Homo sapiens: one gene and its partners. The protein of the gene in region 2 interacts with the protein of the main gene of each other region in a pairwise test. Each region holds a gene or a part of one and is shown on either strand. Other genes may lie near its edges. The genes, in order: SH3GL3, ANTKMT, LUC7L, ZNF76 and LUC7L2.

Region 1 (4,835 bases), on a different chromosome or scaffold from region 2:
GAGCAAGACAGTCTCAAAAAAGAAAAAAGGAAAAGGAAAAGAGAAAAGAAAGAAAAAGAAAAAGAGTGGGGATAAGACCACAAACTAACAATTTTCAGGGGGTATATTGCATAGGGATCAAGAACGTGGACTCTCTACCTGGCCCGAGGTCAAGTCTCAGTGTTGTGGCTTAATTGTGTTAAATTTGTGTCCTCAATTTCTCCATCCCTCACATTGGGGGAAATAGTGGTACCTACTCATAGGATTTCTCTGGGAATTAAATCCATAAATCCACTAATATCTCTGAGACACTTAAAATATTGTCCTGGCACATGGTAAACACTAACACCTGAGAGTTATTATTTCGTCCCTGTAGCTGAGTAGGGCTGAGGAATTGTAGGATTGGACCGCCTCTACCTTAATAAAATGTGCTCAGCATTTCTGCATATGCAAGTAACCCTTTGCAGCAGCAGGGACTTCAGCCAAAAAATATATATATATATATATAATATGTATGTGTGTGTGTATAAATGTATGTGTGTGTGTCTATATATATATATAGAGACAAAATAAGTGGAGTTGGGGGAGGGGCACCGCAAATAATGTTCCTGCTGTTAAAATAAGAGGGACTGAACCATATTAATGCCAAGGGGGAAGTTCAGTTTATTTCAGGGGGGACGTGGTTTTCCTACCTCCTACTGTGTTACTGATACAGTACTTACTGACCAGCCGTCTTAAACTCTTGTGGTAGGGTCTCTCTCTCTCTCTCTCTCTTTCTCTTTTTCCTAATGGTGTGGAACAGAGCTTGAATAATAAATATTTAACAGGGACACTCCCTTTTCTCTGTTAAAATAATCTTTGTTTCAATACTTTAACAAGGAAGACTGTGTTTTCCCACCTCTGCTCTCACGTTTCGTTGAAGCCAGGTCTCAGGAGTAAGAGAAAATCAACACAAGGCCACTTGGGGAGGGCAGTGCTGGCTGAAGCCGTCTCACTGGACAGCCCAGGGTCAGGGGTTTCAGCCGCCTGTTCAAGGACACCGAGATCCACAGCAGCCACCTGGGAGCTCCTACACAACTATGCCCAGCGATTCCAGGTGCCAGCTACTGAATGTGAGAGAGCAAGGAGGTGGAGGTGGATGAGGAACTGCCAGCTGCAGGACCACAGGGGCAAGGGGAAGGGGTTGTCAACAGGGATGGGACGCTGGGTAGGATCAGTCTTTTCTTACGAGACGTTTTCAGCTGAGGTGCTGGCTTCTGATGGTGGGAAACCAAGCATTCAGGTCCCTTGGAGAGGCTTATATCTAACAGTTGGAAAGCCTCCATTGAGGAAATCCAGCCCATTCTGCCTGGACTTTGGGGCTCCATCCATGGTGACTTTTGTGTCAAGGGAAAATTCACACACTGTCCCTCAGGCGGGCAGCAACTTAATTTCTCTTTAGCTGAACTGAACTTGCTTGCAAGCCTCTATGTAGACCAATGGCGGAAACAACTTAATCTTTTTTCCATTTCTGTTGTTGACCAAAAAAAAAAAAAAGCTTTAAAATCTTTTTTCCATTTCTTCTAATGGTGGAAAAAAGCATAATCTTGCCATTTCAAGGTAGCTCAGTCTCTTCCAATAGAAAGCATAGACTATCCGTTTATGACTTAGGCGATTCCAGATTTAAACACAGTCAATTCAGAGTAGAAATTCCCTATCAGGGCTGTTGGTTTTTCTTGAAGGTTCTCTCCTCCCCCTGGTCCAGTCCTAAGATGTTGCCTAGATGTGAGGGGGGTTTACAGAACATCATGGTGGCAGGTAGGGAGGCTCACTTCCACAGCTGAGGTGACTCGTCACAGGAGGCCTGGGGCCTGGGCCAGGATCTGTGCTGACATCTGTGGCTTAGGCCTCCCTCTCTGGGTTGCTGAATCTCTGTATTTGGAGCCGTGTGTCACTGCCCCCAGGCAGCCTCTGGCCTCAGTGGCCCCTCAGCACTTCCTGCTGGGGACTTGAGGGAATTTGTTCACAGTTCACAGGGAGCGACCAGCCTTCAGGCCCCATCTGTACTTAGTGACACCACATGGTTTCCACTGGGCTCCAGCCCCCGTGTTAGTCCAGAGAACTTTGACAGCTGCCTTCTCCCGGGATTTCTGTGGAAAGTGGAGTCTAAGACCCCCTTCCCCAGGGTGGCATCCAAGGAGCATTTCAATTTTCTTGCTCACCCTCTTCTCACTGCAGGCCCCTTCCCTGCTTCCCTGCCTCCAGAAAGAGCTTGTATCTCTTCTCTGGATGGCAGGAAACAGCTCCTCCCTCTCCATGGCTTGTAATCAAAATGCTAGGCTCTGAGTTCTTCAAGCTCTAGTTCTTGGAACCCAGAAGTTTCTCTCTCTCTCTCGCTCTTAAATCTTATAAAAGCCTACCTGGCTCTAGCATGAAAGCCTAAAAGCCTTGGCTTTCACAATGTTTCACAACTGAAATGGTATTATTTGGGAATTTAAAAGCTAAACATTGACTGCTTTGTTCATGTCTGGGTTCCACCCTCCTCCTCAAGTAAGGGAGGCAAGCCCCAGCTCCTTGGGTTGAGGGCCCCAGGCAACAGAAATGACCCAGAATGAAAAATGCATTGATACTTCAGAATATCGTCCGGCTGCATGTATAATTCAGGGCAGCCAGTCTGAGCTCTGGTTGGGGTGGATTTACCAACTGCCTACTTAGCAAGTGCCAATTGCTCTTAGTGTTGTAGCCAGCCCAGTGGTGGCTGGAGGGCCAGGTGCACTTGTACTGCCTGAGTCAGGGAGTTCTTGAACAGGGTCTTTCTACTCAGTGGTCTCTGGAGAGATGCCCTGCCTTGGGTTTAGGTGCTGATGGAGTGTGATATGAGTGCTGGTCTCTTTCCAGCTCTCAGAATATCAAAGTGGGCAATGTGGCAGTGGTTCCTTGCCAAGAATGAATGACATGAGAAGTGAGTAATGCAGCTTTTCCATGATTTGTTCTGTGTGTGTGTGCAGCAAGAACCCAGGTTTACACATGGAGGTGGTGGCCTGGTTTACACATGGAGGTGGTGCATACACTTGGACAAATGTATGCTTGCCACTAAGCATTTTGGTCATTGCAGGTGGCTTATAGAGTAAATGGGAGGGAAATATATAAATCTATCTATCTATCTATCTATCTATCTATCTATCTATCTATCTATCTATCTATCATTAGCCCTGTAATCAGTGTGTCAGCCTATGAAATGTCTTGGCAACCCTTAGTGGTGTCATAGATCATGTACGAGGTGACATGGAGCAAGGTAGCTGATGGCCTAGGGTCTGGAGCCCTCCTGTTTCTGGCTCAGCCAGTAGCCCTGGGGCCAGGCCATTATGACCTCTCAGAGGCATTGATGGCTTCTCTTGGAAAAGGAGAGGACTCATGGAGGACTGCCAAATTCCATTCTAGCATTAACATTCTGTGTTCAAGGAAATGCTTCCCGAGACTACCATGTGGTTTGGCACCTGACCCCTTCTCTGTTAAAAACTAGTCTAGTAGTGGGAGAAATGCTAAAAGAATAATAATTATTTTTATAATCCACATTAAAACAGTTATACATTAATAAAGTAGACTTTGACTCACAGCTCAGGTTGCCCTTGGTTTTCAGTGCTCAGCCCCCACCTGCCCACCCATATACACACTCCATGACCCAAGGAAAATGAAAAGTTCTGTATTGTAAGCCCTCTATTCCCCATGCTTTGTTTGAAATCATTGAATGTTGTTCTGTTCAAATTCAAAATAGTGAACTAATCCCCAATATTTACAGCCTTCCACCCCCTAGCTTTCATCATTATGACAAGAGGAATACACAGACTTAGGCAGGGGTGGGGTCTGTCACGGAAGGAGCTGTCTAGAGGCTAGAAACATCATGTAGATCATAGAGGTTATATTGCAGGTGGGTTCAGAGTTTCAAAGTCACGACCCAGTACAGGAGCTGCCTCCCTGAAGAGGAAGAAGAGCTCCCCTACCATTACCCCCTTCTCTTTCCTCGCCAGCTGAGTCTCTTTAACCTTTAACGCTTCCTTAGGGGAAGGAGAGGGGAGGATCATTTCACTGGTGGTTGTCAACCTACCCTGGACATAGGAAGGACCTGAGAAACAAAAAATACTGATGCCGGGTTCACCCTGGGCAGTGGGCTGTTTAGTGTGCCACCAAGTTGAGAACCACTGCCATAGGAAGGCAACAGGAAGCCACCTTGGTACAACCTGGGGAGCTCCGCTGATGAAGGCTCCTTAGAGTGCCCTGTTCCTTAGAGATATAGGCGCTACTCCATGAATTTCAAGCTGTCTAAACAACTATAATATAATCCTTCTCACAACAGGAATCTCCATTGCCCCAACTCTTGTCTTCCTCCTCCCATAATGCTGTCACCTCTCTACCCCTCCCCAGGACAAAGGGGCATCTCATTTGGCCAGCCACAGAAATACCCCAACGTACCTATTCTCTTTACTTGGACCTAGAAGACTTAGTGGAGAAAGAACATAATCTCTAGCAGAACTTGTTCAATTCTCACTTGAAGTCTAGAGGGAGGAAAAAGTCTTATAACAGAAAAAGGAAATAAAAATGGAAATCATCAAATAGGATGGCAAAAGTCACTTATTAAGAAAAAAAAAAACTCCTAAGATTAATCTTATTAATACTCAAAGAAAAAAAGTATGAACTAGTCAAAATTGAAGTGAGATTTTTGTGAGAGAAATGTGTCATATTAATACTGAAATATACCTAGTTAAATGAATTCATGAGAATAGCAAGGAAATATTGAAATAGAAGGGTAATGACTATGAACTAGTTTTACTAGTTATTAACATTTTATTTATTTATTTATTTTTGAGATGGAGTCTCAC
Region 2 (4,523 bases):
CCCTTGGACAACCTCCACTTTTTCATCTTCAGCCCTGACCACTCCCTGGGGCCCATAGCCTTACATCCATCTGCCCCCAGCCCAAACACTTCTGCAAACACTAGAAAAGGAGGTAGCCCGTGTGCCCTCCTGCACCGCCTCCTCCACTCCTGTCTTGGAGAGGCTTTCCCGTGGGCCGAGCAACCCCCTTACCTTTGGCACTTGCCCTGATTCTCTGGCCAGCTTCCTACAACCTCTCCTTTTCAGCCACACCCAAGTCCACCTGTTCACAAACACCCTGGGCTGGGCCCTGGCCGAACCCTGGCTTCTACCTACCTGTCTCAGGAAGTGCCTGAGCCTTGCACCTACAGACCCTCCCAGAGAAAGCCCTGGCTTTGCAACCAGCTGTCTTCTCATGAGACACAGGGCCACAGGAGCACCACGGTGCCCAAATGGGTCTTGGAGCATTAGACCAGGGGCTTCATGCCTGCCCTGGGGACAGGTGGCCAAAGTGGCATGGGAGATAGGGAGACAGTGTGGGTGAGCAGGTGGGCAGGAGCTACAGGAGCCTGGGGCCTGTGGATCACAGACACCGCCAGGCAAGTGCCAGTTCACACAGGTACAGGTGGCTGCAGAGTGCCCAAAGGCCAAGCAGCAGAGTGCCTGGTGTGGACGGGAGAGGAGTGGGGAGGTTGGGCGCAGTGGCTCACGCCTGTAATCCCAACACTTTGGGAGGCCCAGGCAAGCAGATCATGAGGTCAGGAGATGGAGACCATCCTGGCCAACATGGTGAAACCGTCTCTAATAAAACACAAAAAATTAGCCAGACATGGTGGCATGCATCTGTAATCCCAGCTACTCAAAAGGCTGAGGCAGAGGAATCACTTGAACCTGGAAGGCAGAGGTTGCAGTGAGCCAAGACTGCGCCACTGCACTCCAACCTGGGCGAAAGAGCGAGACTCAAGTCTCAAAAAAAAAAAAAAAAAAAAAAAAAAAAAAAAAAGAAGAGTGGAGAGTGCACGCTAGAGTCCAATTAGGTGCATTCATCCAGTAAGCCTCCTAGGTAACTGCTCTAGGTGCAGGGAATAATGCAGGCAGCAGGACAGGAATGGGCGCTGTCAGCTCCCCCTAGAGCTCAGTGTACATACACCCTTCCTTTCCTGGGAGGGCCGTTCCAGGCCCCCAGGAGACAGGACACGCTGAGCTGGGTGGGGCTGGGGCCAACGTGGGCAGGCCTGTGAGACTCTGCACTTGGGAGCTGGGGGCTGTGGTCTGCGGCATACCCATGTCTGGAAGCAGCCTCTGTCCCTGCAGGGGCTCTAGACCCCAGCCACGGATGGCTAAGGAGGAGCTAGGCCAGGGCACGCATAGACAACCCCCGACATTCACGGGTGTTCAGCCCTACCCTGGGTGTGGAGGTCGTGGCCCAGCTGCCTGACCCAGAGCTCGGCTCTTCCACTTGCGCTTCCCACCCCCAGCTTCACAAGGTCACCTCCAGGAACTCAGTCTTTTTGTGTGTTGTTTTCTGGAGAAGGAAGGTGATCTCCCCACTCCCGGGGCTGTCTGCCTTCCCTGTAGCTGGCAGGTGCCAGAGGCCCCCGCCTGTGACATCCGGCTTTCCTCCCACCACACTCGCCTGAGAGCCAGCATCTGTCTTCTTGGGCCTGCTCAAGCTCTCCTCCGTGTCAGCCCCTCCTCCATGCCCTTCTCCCTCAGACCCCACCCCCCATCCCTTCACCGCCCACTGGGGCTCATCGCTCAGGCTGTAGGAGGGAAATGGAAGGATGTCCTCCCGGGCTCTGGCTGGCGCTGGGTGTCCGAGTCAGCGGAGCGCCCCCAGCAGTCTCCCCGAGGCAGAGTCATGGGGGTGCTGGCGCCTGGACGCTGTCTCATCCCGGGGAGCCGCTTTCCCACCGGCTCCCTGGGCTCCAGCCGCCCCACGCGAGCCCCCGGCTGGTTCTGGGGCCAGGACCGCCCCTCTCCAAGGCAGACTTCCCTTCATTCCACGACAAAGACGCGCAGCCCCGTTTCCCTGGGGCTCTAGCCCGTGAGATCGCCGGGTGTATCCCGACTCCCGCCGGCACGTGCGCTCCCCCAGGGCAGGGCCTGCCTGTCCCCTTCCGCGGGTCGCCAGCAGCCAGCACAGGCCGCAAACGGCGGTCCGCAGAGCGGACCAACGGAGCCGACCCTCGCAGGCTTGGAGCCGGACGCGGCGGGGCAGAGCCCCCGAGGCTGCAGCTCGCCGGAACCCGCGGGAGGGCAGCCGGGCTGGGCGGAGCGCACAGCGCCACGGACCGACCGCGCAGGCTCTGCCGGCCACTTCCGGTGTCGCGCGGCGGCTCCCGGCAGGAGGCAGAGGGCACACCGCCAGCCCCAGGCCAGGCTGCGAGGGCCGCGGACCCGAGCCGGGAAGGACCTTGGGCGGACGAGCCGCGCGTCCCGCAGCCATGGAGCAGGACGACCCGGTCGAGGCGCTGACGGAGCTGCGCGAGCGGCGGCTGGGCGCGCTGGAGCTGCTGCAGGCGGCGGCCGGCTCGGGCTTGGCAGCCTACGCGGTGTGGGCGCTGCTGCTCCAGCCCGGCTTCCGGCGCGTGCCGCTGCGGCTGCAGGTGCGGGGCGGGGCCAGGCCGGGCAGGGGAGCTCGGCTGCCGCTCAGGGTCTCAAGGTCTGGGCGTGGCCGGGGTGAGCTCCGCCCCGCCGTGTGGTAGTTCGGGCCGGGCTGCGGGCGGGGCGGGAGCGGCCAGTGGACTCTCGCCGCCACCCGGTCCAGGTGCCCTACGTCGGCGCGAGCGCGCGGCAGGTGGAGCACGTGTTGTCGCTGCTGCGAGGACGCCCCGGAAAAACGGTGGATCTGGGCTCTGGCGACGGCAGGATCGTAAGTGCCTGCGTCTGGGTCTTCGCCGCCCCACACCGCCCACCTGCTGGCGGGCGCCCCTGCCCACATCCTGGTTCCCACACTCTCGGTGCCCACAGGTGCTGGCGGCCCACAGGTGCGGCCTCCGCCCGGCCGTGGGCTACGAGCTGAACCCCTGGCTGGTGGCGCTGGCGCGGCTGCACGCCTGGAGGGCCGGCTGTGCCGGCAGCGTCTGCTATCGCCGCAAGGATCTCTGGAAGGTAACCTGGGGATCCCTGGCCACCCGCTGACAGCCCAAGGTGCGGCTGACACCTGCGAGGGCTGGGGGCCGGGACTCGGAAGCTGCGATGACCCGGTGCCCACCAGGCCTCTCCCCGGCCGGGGCGACTTCTCTTCCGGCAGGTGAGCCTGAGGGACTGCCGCAACGTGTCTGTGTTCCTGGCCCCTAGCGTGGTAGGTGCGGGGTTGCCAGCCCCGCTGGGAAGCCCCAGCCACACCCCAGGGTGTTTGCTGCTCTGAGGCCTGGGCCTGCCTGGTGGGTGCTAGGCTTGGGGCTAGGGGGGTGAGCGCGGCTGTTTTCTACCGGCCCCGCCCCCGCCCCCTCTACTCTGCTGTTCTCTCCCTCAGCTCCCGCTGCTGGAGGACAAGCTGCGGACAGAGCTGCCTGCTGGGGCCCGCGTGGTGTCTGGGCGCTTCCCACTCCCCACCTGGCAGCCTGTGACCGCGGTTGGCGAGGGCCTGGACCGAGTATGGGCTTATGATGTTCCTGAGGGTGGGCAGGCTGGGGAGGCCGCCTCCTCGCGGATACCCATCCAGGCTGCCCCCGGACCTAGTTCTGCCCCCATCCCGGGGGGCCTTATTTCTCAGGCCAGCTGAGTATTAGACACGATAAAGACTCTGTGGGTTCTATCCTGACTCATGTTTTATGGGGGGCTGGGTGGGAGGGTTCTGTGCTGGCTGAGGAGCTCTGCTCTGCTCTGCTCCTTGGGAGACGGCCTAGTGGCTGCCGGTCCTTGGATGCTGGGGCTTGGCTGGAGGCACAGCCCCCACTTTCCAGGGGTCCCCTGCACCTGCCAGCTTCCTCAGCCTCAGGATTTCGTGCTTGTACCTGCTCAGAGGAACCATGCTTAAGTGACTTGCCCAGCTGTGGACAGGTCTGCTTTTAGCGCCTGAGGCAGCCATCATCCTTCATTCCAACCAGACCAGGGCCCTGGGGTCACACCCAGCTCCCTCTGCCCACCTGCCCAGGTGCTGGTCCACGTACTCCTGTAGCTCAGAAAGTTGCTCTTCAGCCATCGTGGCCCGGACCAGCAGCTGTGCCCGCTCCCGTTCCAGCTCTGCCTGGCATGGGGATGTAAGCCATGAGCTGGGGCATGGCGTGAGGATGGGCCTGGGCCAGCCCTTGCCTCCTACCTGGGTGCTGCGGGAGAAGTCCCGGAGCTTCTGGTGGATCTGGGCCCAGGATGCAGCGTCCAGGCCCCTGTGAGGGGAGAGGAAAGGAGGAGTGGTTTTGAGAGCTGGCATGGTGACACAGGGACAGACGTGACCGTGCTGAGTCAGGTTCCCAGAGCCGGGAGGGGACACCTGGGAGTGAGTGAGGGAGGCATGGGCCCCCCCCGTGCTCCTGTGGCGCCCCCCCCAGGCCTTGGAGCCATCCGTGTATAGGGACAGCCCGGGCCCAGGGGGTCTG
Region 3 (4,835 bases), 510 kb from region 2:
GAAGTTGCCTAGGAAAGGATGTGTGCTATATTTGTTATAAGGCAGTCTATAAATAAACTAAGTTTCTCAACTTGTAAACTGTCAAACAGCAATATTAATCATATTAAGCTCTGAAAAAGTTACAGATGGCCAGGTGTGCGCTCACGCCTGTAATCCCAGTACTTTGGTGGGAGGCAGAGGCCGGAAGATTGCTTGAGCCCAGGAATTCGAGACCAGCCTGGGCAAAGTCTCTACAAAATCAGAAATGTTAGCTGGGTGTAGTGACGTGTTCCTATAGTCCTACCTGCTTTGGAGGCTGAGGTGGAAGGATGGTTTGAACCTGAGAGGTCAACGCTAAAGTGAGCCGTGATCGTGCCACTGTATTCTAGCCTGGGTGACAGAGCAAGATCCTCTCGGGAAAAAAAAAAAAGGTATATTTCTTTAGTGTTCACATGTTGAAAATGTAATGAATGTGTCTTTGTAATTCACCAAAAGTGTAATTAACCTTTACTCCCATGTTGTCTGGCCATGTGATGTTTTGAAAAGTTTTCAAAACAACATATATGGGCTCATTTCAAAGCTGTTTTTAATATACCACATGAGACCAGTTCTGATTGTATGTAGTTTTCCTGTCTTACAGTTGTCCAGTATAAGAGTGACATTTTTCTAGGTCAAATGTCTTGAGTTAGAGTCCCTGTGTGACCCTGGGCAAGTTATTTCACCTTCTTTTTTTCATCTATAAACTGGGCTGACGATGGCTGCCTCAGATTTGTGAGGATGAAGTGCAGGTCTTTGGAGCCAGACCACAAGGGTCCTTGGATCCTGACTCCATTGCTTACTTAGTGGTTTGGTAGCTGTGCTTCACTTTCATCATCCATGCAATGGAGACCCGACGAGCTCCTCTGCGGCTGTGTTTTTTGAGATGGAGTTTCGCTCTTGTTGCCCAGGTTGGAGTGCAATGGCACGATCTCAGCTCACTGCAACCTCCGCCTCCCGAGTTCAAGTGATTCTCCTGCCTCAGCCTCCTGAGTAGTTGGGATTACAGGCATGCACCACCACGCCTGGGTAATTTTGTATTTTTAGTAGAGATGGGGTTTCTCCTTGTTGGTCAGGCTGATCTCAAACTCCTGACCTCAGGTGATCCACCCACCTCAGCCTCCCAAAGTGCTAGGATTACAGGCGTGAGCCACCGCGCCCGGCCCCTCTGCGGCTCTTTGGAGGTGTTTAGCGCACGTGCCTAGTGCAGCACAAGGGCACCTGTCTGCTGTGACAGTTCTGACTGACATCATGGGCTTTTCTCAGGCTCAGTGACCACCGGCCTGTGTCAGTGCTGCTGGGCCGGGAGAGCTGGTAACAGCACCAGGCAGTCCGTGTGTGGAGGGACAGCCTCCTCAGTGGAGATGACGTGTGCTGATATTGTCCAGTTTTGCCATACTGTTAGGACACAAGTCTTTGTGCTGGTGCTGTCTGTGCTCAGGGGCTTTTAGGGTTTATGTTTCATAACGCTACTCAGAGATAGAGAGAGATTGGGTGACTTTCTAGTAAGTGGTAGGTTGTGATTAGGACTTAATTTTTGGAATCGAATGTCTTTTTTTTATCATTTAGATCTGCTCTTTTAAGAAACAGGCTAAAGTTGAGAAACACTTTGAAGGGAGAGGGCAGTAGAACAGAAAGCCACCTTTTAAAGAACTTGGCAGCTCTTGGTTGGCTTGTTCTCTGTTGTGAAGTTTACCATTTATAGTTGTTGTTTTCTGTTTGAGCCAGTCTTGCTCTGTCGCCCAGGCTGGAGTGCAGTGGCGTGATCTTGGCTCACTGCAACCTCCGCCTCCCAGGTTCAAGCGATTCTCCTGCCTCAGCCTCCCTTGTAGCTGGGATTCACCTCGTAAGGCGAATTAACCTTAGCATATGATAGTTCTTTTAGTGTTTCCCACCACCCTTTTCAGAGTAAGCAATTAGACGTCTAGAGTTTCTTTTCCTCTATCTCTTTGGGTAAATAGCAACCAGTGGTGCCCGCCACCACGCCTGGCTAATTTTTTGTATTTTTAGTAGAGATGGGGTTTCACCATACTGGCCAGGCTGGTCTCAGACTCCCAAAGTGTTGGGATTACAGGCGTGAGCCACCGTGCTGGGCCTACCATTTAGTGTTCTTTTTTTTTTTTTGAGACGGAGTGTTGCCCTGTCACCCAGGCTGGAGTGCAGTGGCACACAGTCTCTGCTCACTGCAAGCTCTACCTCCCGGGTTCATGCCATTGTCCTGCCTCAGCCTCCCGGGTACCTGGGACTATAGGCGCCCGCCACCACGCCCGGCTAATTTTTTGTATTTTTAGTAGAGACGGGGTTTCACTGTGTTAGCCAGGGTGGTCTCGATCTCCTGACCCCGTGATCCGCCCACCTCAGCCTCCCAAAGTGCTGGGATTACAGGCGTGAGCCACCACGCCCGGCCACCATTTAGTTTTTAGGTTATCAGACATCTGAGTCCATAGCCAATTTGGATTCTGCTTAAGGTGCAGGTAATTGCTTTGATGGGTTTAGGTATTGGGAGAGTTGTCAGCTGCCTATTTCCCATTTGACCCCTCGAGTGAATCCCTGAATCTGTCTCAGGTTGGTGATTGATTGCTCAGCTTGAGCAGACAGTACAGGGCCACTGTGTGGGTGAACCTGGAGCATCTCAGACTGGTCTGTTAGGGGCTGTTGTCTGAGGTAAGCACAGAAGAGAAGGCACAGTGACCCTTGTCAGCTCCTTAATACTTGGATCCTGATGAGCTCCAGCCAGCTCTTCACCTTTCCAGAAAGTCCAGTGTACAGGTGCATAGAAGCAGTCAAATGCCGGATCATTTGTTTTCCTGATTCTTTGATTTGAACATACTGAAATGTTGACTAGAGAATATCTGGGTGACCAACAAGAAGCAGTTTATGTATTTTTTTGAGAGGGAGTCTCGCTCTTGTTGCCCAGGCTGGAGTGCAATGGCGCGATCTCAGTTCACTGCAACCTCTGCTTCCCAGGTTCAAGCAGTTCTCCTGCCTCAGCCTCCGAAGTAGCTGGGATTACAGGCATGCACCACCACTCGTGGCTAATTTTGTATTTTTAGTAGAGATGGGGTTTCTCCATGTTGGTCAAGCTGGTCTCGAACTCCTGACCTCAAGTGATCCACCCGCCTTGGCCTCCCAAAGTGCTGGGATTACAGGCGTGAGCTACCACGCCTGGCCAAGAGGCAGTTTTTGAATTCCAAAATTATGGAGTGATATCTGGGAGTCAGCCTTCATCAGTGATGCTGCTTGTGCTTTCTCCAGCTTCTTGGGAGACTGGGCACCAGGAGACTTGGAGGTTCTTCCCTATCTTACCTACTCCCAAGTATGCATGTTTTTGAAAAAAATATTTAAGATTTCTAGAGAAGATCACAATCTTCTCCAGTGTCTGTGTAATCCATTGTGGAGCAGTTTATTACAGCTGACCTACTGTCTCCTGTCTGTTTTAGGAGCGGTGACTTAGGTTATCACCCCTTAGTGTTTTCCTGTCATCTGCCTTCTCATCTCCACCTAAAATTTAGTTTTTGGTAAAAGATCATGCTATCTAACCTTGTCATCATTGCAAAACAAACTTATTTATGTTTATCATGATGCTGACATTAGCAAGCTGACTCATGGTTTAATGTTAGTGTTTCTTACTACTGGTCACTGGCTGACAGTCGGAAAAGTGATGCCCTATTTTTTTTTTTTTTTTTTGAGATGGAATCTTGCTCTGTTGCCCAGGCTGGAGTGCAGTGGTGCCATCTCGGCTCACTGCAACCTCTTCCTCCCAGGTTCAAGCGATTCTTCTGCCTCAGTCTCCTGAGTAGCTGGAACTACAGGTGCATGCTACCACGCCCAGCTAATTTTTATGTTTTTAGTAGAGATGGGGCTTCACTGTATTGGGAAGGCTGGTCTTGAACCTCTGACCTCATGGATCCTCCCGCCTCGGCCTCCCAAAGTGCAGGGATTACAGGTGTGAGCCACTGGGCCCTGCCTTTTTTTGTTTTTGTTTTTGTTTTTGATACGGAGTCTTGCTCTGTTGCCTAGGCTGGAGTGTGGTGGTCTGGTCTCAGTTCACTACAACTTCTGCCTCCGAGGCTCAAGCGATTCTCCTGCCTCAGCCACCTGAGTAGCTGGGATTACAGGCACCCGCTATCATGCCCAGCTAATTTTTGTATTTTTATTAGAGACCATGTTGGCTAGACTGGTCTTGAACTCCTGACCTCATGATCCGCCCACCTTGGCCTCACAAAGTGCTGGGATTACAGGTGTGAGCCACTGCGTCCGGTCCTGTCTCTGTTTTTATCTGAAATTATGTTAGCCTTTGCCTAGTTATGGTGAATTAACCTTAGCATATGATAGTTCTCTTAATGTTTCCCACCACCCTTTTCAGAGTAAGCAATTTGACGTCTACAGCTTCTTTTCCTTTATCTCTTTGGGTAAATAGCAACCAATTTTTCCTGCTACTTTAGATAGTAGGCAATAACAAAATGTATTCATAGCTCTCAGTAATATTTGTTCTATTGTTTTGTTTTTGAGGTGAAAGGGGGGACCCTACCCTCAGAACATGAGGGAATAATATTTACGTGGCTCACAAAGACCAGTGAGTACATCATATGCATCTCTCACAACTCCCCAGAAGAGGGCCTCCAGCACGAGTCTAGGCTCAGCCTTTTCTGTCCCTCCGAGAACTCTATGAATTGCTGCCAAGTGTTTTAATTTTCCTCAGAATTTCTTTGTAATGTTATTGAGGGTTGGAGGTCCTTTTACAAATTTTGGAAATAAGTAAATCAAATGAGAAGACCATGCTTCCAAACAATCATTCTGTTTAACAGATCCCCTTGATT
Region 4 (3,500 bases), on a different chromosome or scaffold from region 2:
CAGAACCCCAAGTACTGATGCCCTTGCCAGGACAGATAAATTGTTAAAATGAGGGTAGCCTACTGCTCTGTGGGTGGGAGGGAAGAAAATGGGTTCATCTTCCCCCCATCTCAGCTGCCTTTCCTATTTCTTACCTTTATCTCCACCTTACCTGCCTTTGGTTAGTTGTAGGACTGTTAGTTACTGACCCCAAGAAGACTCAGTTTGGGAGCAAGTTTGGGGATTCCTCTAAAGGGGAGACGTCAGCAGAGACTTGGGCTGGAAGTAACTGTCTTTCCCACCTGAGCGCTCAGTTTCCTAAACCTCAATCTTCTAAGGAAAGGACAAATCACTTGTCATTAACTTTTTTTTTATTTTTTCTTCCTTTTTTTTTTTGAGACGGAGTCTCACCCTGTAGCCCAGGCTGGAGTGCAGTGGCGTGATCTCGGCTCACTGCAACCTTCGCCTCCCGGGTTCAAGCGATTCTCCTGCCTCAGCCTCCCGAGTAGCTGGGACTATAGGCATGTGCCATCACGCCTGGTTAATTTTTTTGTATTTTTAGTAGAGACACGGTTTCATGATGTTGGCTAGACTGGTCTCGAACTCCCGACCTCAGGTTATCCGCCTGCCTCAGCCTCCCAAAGTGCTGGGATTATAAGTGTGAGCCACCACACCCAGCCTTACTTTTTTGTTTTTTCTTTTTGAGACAGGACCTCACTCTGTCACCCAGGCTAGAGTGCAGTGGTACAATCTCAGCTCACTGCAACCTCCGCCTCCCGGGTTCAAGTGATTCTCCTGCCTCAGCCTTCCGAGTAGCTGGGACGACAGGTACCTGCCTCCACACCCAGCTAATTTTTTTGTATTTTTAGTAGAGACAGGGTTTCACCATGTTGGTTAGGCTGGTCTCAAACTCCTGACCTCAGGTGATCTGCTCGCCTTGGCCTCCCAAAGTGCTGGGATTACAGATGTAAGCCACCGTGCCCAGCCTTTTTATTTATTTATTTTTTATTTTTTTCAGACAGGGTCTTACTCTGTCACCCAGGCTGGACTGCAGTGGCATAATCACGGCTTACTGCAACTTCTGCCTCCTGGGCTCAAGCAATCCTCCCACCTCAGCCTCCCGAGTAACTGGGACCACAGGCATGCACTACTACATCCAGTTAATTTTTGTGTTTTTTGTAGAGACAGGGTTTTGTCACATAGCTCAGGCTGGTCTCAAACTCCTGAGCTCAAGCGATCCACCCGCCTTGGCCTCCCAAAGTGTTGGGATTATAGGCATGAGCCACCGAATCTGACCATCATTAACTCTTCAATCTCCCTTTCTTTCCTTTCTCATTTCTCTTCTTCCTTCCCCCTCTGTCAGACTCACTGGACACAAGGAAGGGTCGTCTAGTTCTAATTTCAAGAGCCTTATTAGAAGTGCTTTCCAGTAAGGTAAAGGAAGAGTAATATCTTAGGAAATCTGGAGGCTTGTTAATTTTTATGCTGCTTGTTGTGTTGCCTTAGGTGATCTAATTTTTTACTAGAAAATTGAAATGAAAAATGAGAGGTCAATGAAGGAACATTACTCAACAGTGGCAGTGGAATAAGACCTTCATGGACACATAATAGCATAATAGTTGTGCTCACATAGTTCTCTATTGCTTTACTTTCCATTTCTTCTAAAATGCATATTGGGCTTATAATAAAAGCTAGGATTTATTGAGGGCTGACCATATATACCTGGCACTCTTCCCAGTTTTTTATATTCGTTAACTCATTTAACCCTAACAGCAACCCTATAAGAGACACAGTTTTCAATCCCCATTTTAAGAAAAGGAAACTGAGGCACAGAGAGGTTAGTTAAATAAGCTGTCCAAGGTCACACAGCTGTTAAGAGGTAGAGCTGGAATTCAAACTCTGGAGGCCTGGCCTGGTTCCAGAGTCTATTGTTTTTAACCATTAAGCTATATATCCTGCCTTCACAGGGGCTCCTGGTCTTAGCACACTGTCATAGTGAGGGATGAGGGGATATGTTTTGATTTTGTTAGTTTGAGCTATATCTGAATTTTGACCCACTGGGGCTCATCCAGGTTTAAGGGCCATTAGTTCAAGTCTCAGCAACTTACTATTAGGTTGGAAGTTTCCACTTGGCTGGGCATGGGTAGAATAATAAGTGAAGTTATTCCTCCTGTTAGTAACTGGAAGGGAATCTGTTGGGAGGTGATGGGTTCGGCAAGGCAAGTGTCTTCACCCTTAGTGTCTCAAGGCCCAGGCCCAGGGAGACAGAGCAAGGGAACAAGGAAGATGTTACCCATGCTTAGACCTGCAGGCTCGTGCCTAGAGACTCAAATAAGCCTCAGCTAAAAACAGGCAGGCGTTTCTTAGCCCTCTTCTGGTCCTGGCCCATTTCTCTCTATTTCCACTCTTAACAGGAGAGAAGCTTCTTGAAGGGCAGGTGATCCAGCTCGAGGATGGGACCACCGCATACATTCACCAGGTGACGGTACAGAAAGGTGAGGGCACCCCAACACACCATGCCTTGTCGAGGGAAGCCTGACAGCCCCCACCAAGGGACCCCTCCATGGCACTGAGCTCCAGGGAAAGGCAGGCATTGCTCTCGTTACAGAAGCTCTCTCCTTTGAGGATGGTCAGCCTGTGCAGCTGGAAGATGGCAGCATGGCTTACATACACCGCACACCCAGAGGTAGGGTCACCATCATCACAACTCGGGGAAGGATGGGAGGCAGGACTGGAGGATGGGGTGGCAGGACTGGAGGATGGGATGGCACACAACTGGGGTGTAGACATGGGAGCTGTCATCTCCATGGTACACACATGCTCACCTGGATTAGCAGCCTTGCCCACCTTCCCTGGTGCAGACCACAGGAGCAGCTATGTCTGCAACTGGGAGGTGAGCCTTGGAGATCAGTGACGTGGACTTTGATGGTGGCCTTGGCTCCAGCACAGCCACAAAGTCTTAGGGCTTTAAATAGGACCCGAGGATATCATCCAAGACCAGGAAAAAAAACTAATATTTTAGAATGAAGCTCCTAAGGTGCTGAAGAATAACAATTTATTCCTTCCGCAGGTGGTTTCTTGAGTGACTGTTGCATGCCTGGCGTTGTGTTAGGTGTGCAGTATACAAGACAGAACAAAGTCAGACACAGTCCCCGCTCTCCTAGAGTCTAGAGGGGGAAACAGAAGTGAAACAAGCCATCAGTGATGAACTGATCATTACAAACAGAGATCAGGCTCAGGGAGGGCTTCTCTGAGGTAGTGATGCTTGAGCTGAGAGGTAAAGAATGAGGTAGACTTAGCTGGGGGAAGAGGGATGGCAGGGAGGGTTCAGTACTTCAGGCAGAAGGAATAGCATGTGCAGGCCTAGAGCTGGGGGGAAGAAAGAACAGCACATTCCAGGAACTGCTAGGAGCTAGAGCCCTGGGAGTGAAGGCAGAATGAGCAGGAGGAAACTGGAGAGAGAAAGACAGGGCTGGTGCACTCTGGGTTTGAGTGTCAGGGTGAGGATTTTGGTCTTTATC
Region 5 (3,865 bases), on a different chromosome or scaffold from region 2:
TGTACAACATTTTTCTGTGATTATATGGGTAGTTTTGAAAGAATATACTTATGAGCCAGAGCAAGAAATTGGAACCAATATGTGTAGAGGTTATTGCTTTTCTCTGCTTAGTGTGTCTTGGAAAAAAGTTCTTTACAGGTAAATAATTTTAAATACCAATACCCTTAGTATGGATCAGCAAATTAGGGGCTCTGAGAAGTCCTTTCATTACAAGAGTTGTTTAGCTTTGATTTATTGTTTTCTAAACTTATTTGAGCTGGGATGCTTTTTCAGAGCAGACACATTCTAGTATATTCTTGTTTTATCTGCACTATAGATATGTATTGTTACATACCTTCAGCTTGGCAAGGCAGACTAATAAGGAGGTTCCAAGACTTCCCTTGGTTTAATGAGAACATTCAAAAGGTGCAGGCATAGGGTAAGGTATGTTTGAGGACTTGAATATCTATTAAGGATAGACAAAGGATTATAATGTGGTAGAAGAGTTTAGCATTCATAGTCTGTATAGATCAAACTGTCAAAACTTCTCAGGTCACATGATGGCCCTTAAACCAGGTAATTTCTGTGTAACGTAAGCCATGTTTAAAATTGCTTTTTTCTTGACAACTATTCAGAAGTATATGTATGATAAACATTTTTTGAGTGCCTAGTACCTACTAGTCTTACATATTCTGTGGATTACTCCACATAAAATCTATAATAAAATCCACAGAAAGCTGTTAAAATCTTTCCTATTTTTTTTTGACTCAACTTTCCATTCCCTGAAATCACTCACAAGCTGAGTTTGTTAATAGGCTCTCAATATTTTATTTCTTATATTCTGGCCTTGTTTTTAGTATTTCTTAAGGTGATTTTAATAATAATTAATTGTATATGTTTTACTGTACTAGACTTAGTAAAACATAAGAAAGACGTATAACATAGTTGAACAACTTTAAGTTGCTCTAAGAAGTTTCCTATGTGAGGCTGGGTGCCATGGCTCACGCTTATAATCCCAGCACTTTGGGAGACCGAGATGGGCGTATCACTTGAGATCAGGAGTTCAAGACCAGCCTGGCCAACCAACCCCATCTCTACTAAAATACAAACATTAGCCGGGCATGGTGGCACATGCCTGTAATCCCAGCTACTCAGGAGGCTGAGGAAGGAGAATTGCTTGAACACAAAGGTGGAGGTTGCAGTGAGCCAAGATCGCACCACTGCACTCCAGCCTGGGTGACAGAGCGAGACTCCAGCTCTCAAAACAAAAAAAAACAAACAAAAAAAAAAACAAAAAGTCTCCTATGTGAGTTAGAACAAAGGATTGACATCTTTGACAATAATTAGACTGGCATAAGACTACCACATGTTATAAAGTGCTAAACTGCATATCATAGAATAAATGATCCGAGAGTTTAGATGAGGCAAATAACAGAGTAATCAAAAATGGCTTCAGGTAGTCGGTAAAATTTGAACAGGTAGAATCAGCTAGGAAAAAGATATTCCATATAGAGTGAATATCCTAGGCAAATGCAGAGAATGAGGAGGGAGTTTGTAAAGGACAGAGTGATTTGTAGGCCTCTTATCTCACACTCTTGAAACTGATTTTGGGGGTCTACCCTCAGTGCAGTGTTCAGAAATAAGCATTTTTTAAAAGTTACCTGTCTTATCTGCACAATGAATTTTCAGAATTATCCTGCTAGGTGATGGAAGGTTTAGACATTTTCCTGTGTCAAATCTGCCCAACTGTCATTGTTGTTGCTGAACTCCTAAATGTCTTTATTGGTGATGGGTATGGGAAGGATGGGCGTGAAGTCCCCTAATCTGAGATTGTGTTATTTTAGTCCCTGATGCTTCCTGCGTTGATGAAGTTGTATAGGAATTTTTCCACCATACATGATACATGATCATATCTAAGATGTCAGCATGTTCATAAAGAGGATTATTTTTGTAAAACTATTAAAAGTTTTGCTTTTCTCGAGCACTTTCTCATCTTTGAATTCAAATTATTCTCTTTTAAAGCATCATTCTTTGTTTTATACTAAAAATTACCAGATAATTGCTGTTAAAACCTACTTGGTATTTCATACAACATCAAGTTATTGCTACATATTTGGGTTTAATTTTTCAAGGTAAAAGTTCTTATTGAAAGCCTTTTATGTTTTGCTGTTCTCCTTTCCCTACTGTGAAATACTTGTCTCTGATACAAGTAGATTCTTTGTGACCTCTTCCTGGCAATAGTGCCCTGCGTAAATGAGGACCATTTGCATCTATCTATCTTTTTGCTCTGTTCAAACATGTTTAGTGCAGACTCCAAAGTCAGATTACTTGGGTTCATTGGTTTAGGCTAAGTAATTTATTTTTTTTTTTGAGACGAGAGTCTCGTTCTGTCACCCAGGCTGGAGGGCAGTGGCGCGATCTCGGCTCGTTGCAACCTCTGCCTTGCGGGTTCAAGCGATTCTTTTGCCTCGGCCTCCCAAGTAGCTGGGATTACAGGCCCAGGCCACCACACCTGGCTATTTTTGTATTTTTAGTAGGGACAGGGTTACGCCATGTTGGCCGGGCTGGTCTCAAACTCCCGACCTCAGGTGATCCACCTGCCTTGGCCTCCCAAAATGCTGGGATTACAGGCATGAGCCACCACGTCCCACCTTGGCTAAGTAATTTATAACTATCTCACCTGTCTTTCCCCATCTACTAAGTGGAGAAAGTAAGAATACCTGCTTTGTTAAGATTATTGGTAGTTTGAGTAAAATAGTATATGGAAACCACTATGTGTGGGACATAGTAGTTGATACTCATAGTTTTTTAGTTATTACTGATCACTGGGACTGTTTGGCATCTAGTGTCTTTTTAGGTATCATTTTTACCATCTCTTTTCATATTTTATTCCAACAAAGGCTATGGATAGGACTAGTGTAGACGTGGAATCACTAGACTTGGCACTGTGATTTTTTGTTGTTGTTGAGATGGAGTCTTGCTCTGTCACCCAGGCTGGAGTGCAGTAATGCGATCTGGGCTCACTGCAGCCTCCGCCTCCCAGGTTCAAGTGATTCTCCTGCCTCAGCCTCCCGAGTAGCTGGGACTACAGGCACACGCCACCACTCTCAGCTAATTTTTTGTATTTTAAGTAGAGACGGGGGTTTCACTATGTTGGCTAGGCTGGTCTTGAACTCCTGACCTCAAGTGATCTGCCTGCCTTGGCCTCCCAAAGTGCTGGGATTACAGGCGTGAGTCACCGTGCCCAGTCTTTTTATATCATTTTAAGTTTATTAAAACATTAAGTAGAATGTTCAAAGTGGACATTATTTTAGAACCATTTTTTGTTTAACCCTCCTTAACTATATTTCTAAAACTGAACAGTCATATTTTTTATTTTCCTGAAAGTATTACTTATTCAGGTTCTTGGTAGTGCCTCAGATCCTAATTTTGAATATGGGTTGAGTGAGATAATTATGTAAAAGTGCTGTGTCACCTGTAAAGAACCAAATAAATGTAATTTGTTGAATTTTAGATGTTGGAAGTATGGAAGATTCCATGTTTATTCTGATTCCATAATATGTTTGGTTTTCCGATTGATTTATTATTTACCTTTCTTATAATGAAGTTGGGTATGGGAATGGAGAAGGTAGTAAACAGTTATGGCTAATCAAGATTTATTAGTGTGAGCATCTTTGTCTTTTTTTATTTCCCCTTGTTGGTTGAATAAGCTAACTCAGTATGAGTAGATTTTTAGAAGTGGTTATTTAAATTCATATTAATAATTGAGTAGTTCTCTTATCTAAGTCAGGTGTTGGCAAACTGTTGCCGATAGGCCAAATCTGGCCGGTAGCCTGTACAACCAGCAAGCTATGGATGGTTTTTACATTCTAAAAAGAAAAGAACT

Evidence for each region.
Region 1: the proteins of ANTKMT (region 2) and SH3GL3 interact in a two-hybrid assay, tested with the Homo sapiens proteins (one large-scale study listed by BioGRID and IntAct).
Region 3: the proteins of ANTKMT (region 2) and LUC7L interact in a two-hybrid assay, tested with the Homo sapiens proteins (one large-scale study listed by BioGRID and IntAct).
Region 4: the proteins of ANTKMT (region 2) and ZNF76 interact in binary tests that used the Homo sapiens proteins (3 or more experiments, as listed by UniProt).
Region 5: the proteins of ANTKMT (region 2) and LUC7L2 interact in a two-hybrid assay, tested with the Homo sapiens proteins (one large-scale study listed by BioGRID and IntAct).

What each region holds. Positions count from the first base shown.
Region 1 is NC_000015.10:83,610,513-83,615,347, forward strand, and holds part of SH3GL3 (endophilin-A3), read left to right. Parts: intron 1-901; exon of another isoform or gene 902-905; coding exon of another isoform or gene 906-1,075; intron 1,076-4,835. UniProt on the Homo sapiens protein: Implicated in endocytosis. May recruit other proteins to membranes with high curvature.
Region 2 is NC_000016.10:718,849-723,371, forward strand, and holds ANTKMT (adenine nucleotide translocase lysine N-methyltransferase), read left to right. Parts: upstream 1-2,297; 5' UTR 2,298-2,426; coding exon 2,427-2,588; intron 2,589-2,749; coding exon 2,750-2,854; intron 2,855-2,952; coding exon 2,953-3,093; intron 3,094-3,235; coding exon 3,236-3,286; intron 3,287-3,460; coding exon 3,461-3,709; 3' UTR 3,710-3,742; downstream 3,743-4,523. Other genes in the region: CCDC78 (coiled-coil domain-containing protein 78), read right to left, coding at 3,830-3,941, 4,074-4,313.
Region 3 is NC_000016.10:208,357-213,191, reverse strand, and holds part of LUC7L (putative RNA-binding protein Luc7-like 1), read left to right. Parts: intron 1-4,527; exon of another isoform or gene 4,528-4,591; intron 4,592-4,835. UniProt on the Homo sapiens protein: May bind to RNA via its Arg/Ser-rich domain.
Region 4 is NC_000006.12:35,283,735-35,287,234, forward strand, and holds part of ZNF76 (zinc finger protein 76), read left to right. Parts: intron 1-2,391; exon of another isoform or gene 2,392-2,393; coding exon 2,394-2,474; intron 2,475-2,587; coding exon 2,588-2,665; intron 2,666-2,696; exon of another isoform or gene 2,697-3,240; coding exon of another isoform or gene 3,241-3,256; intron 3,257-3,500. UniProt on the Homo sapiens protein: May be involved in transcriptional regulation.
Region 5 is NC_000007.14:139,417,872-139,421,736, forward strand, and holds part of LUC7L2 (putative RNA-binding protein Luc7-like 2), read left to right. Parts: intron 1-3,865. UniProt on the Homo sapiens protein: May bind to RNA via its Arg/Ser-rich domain.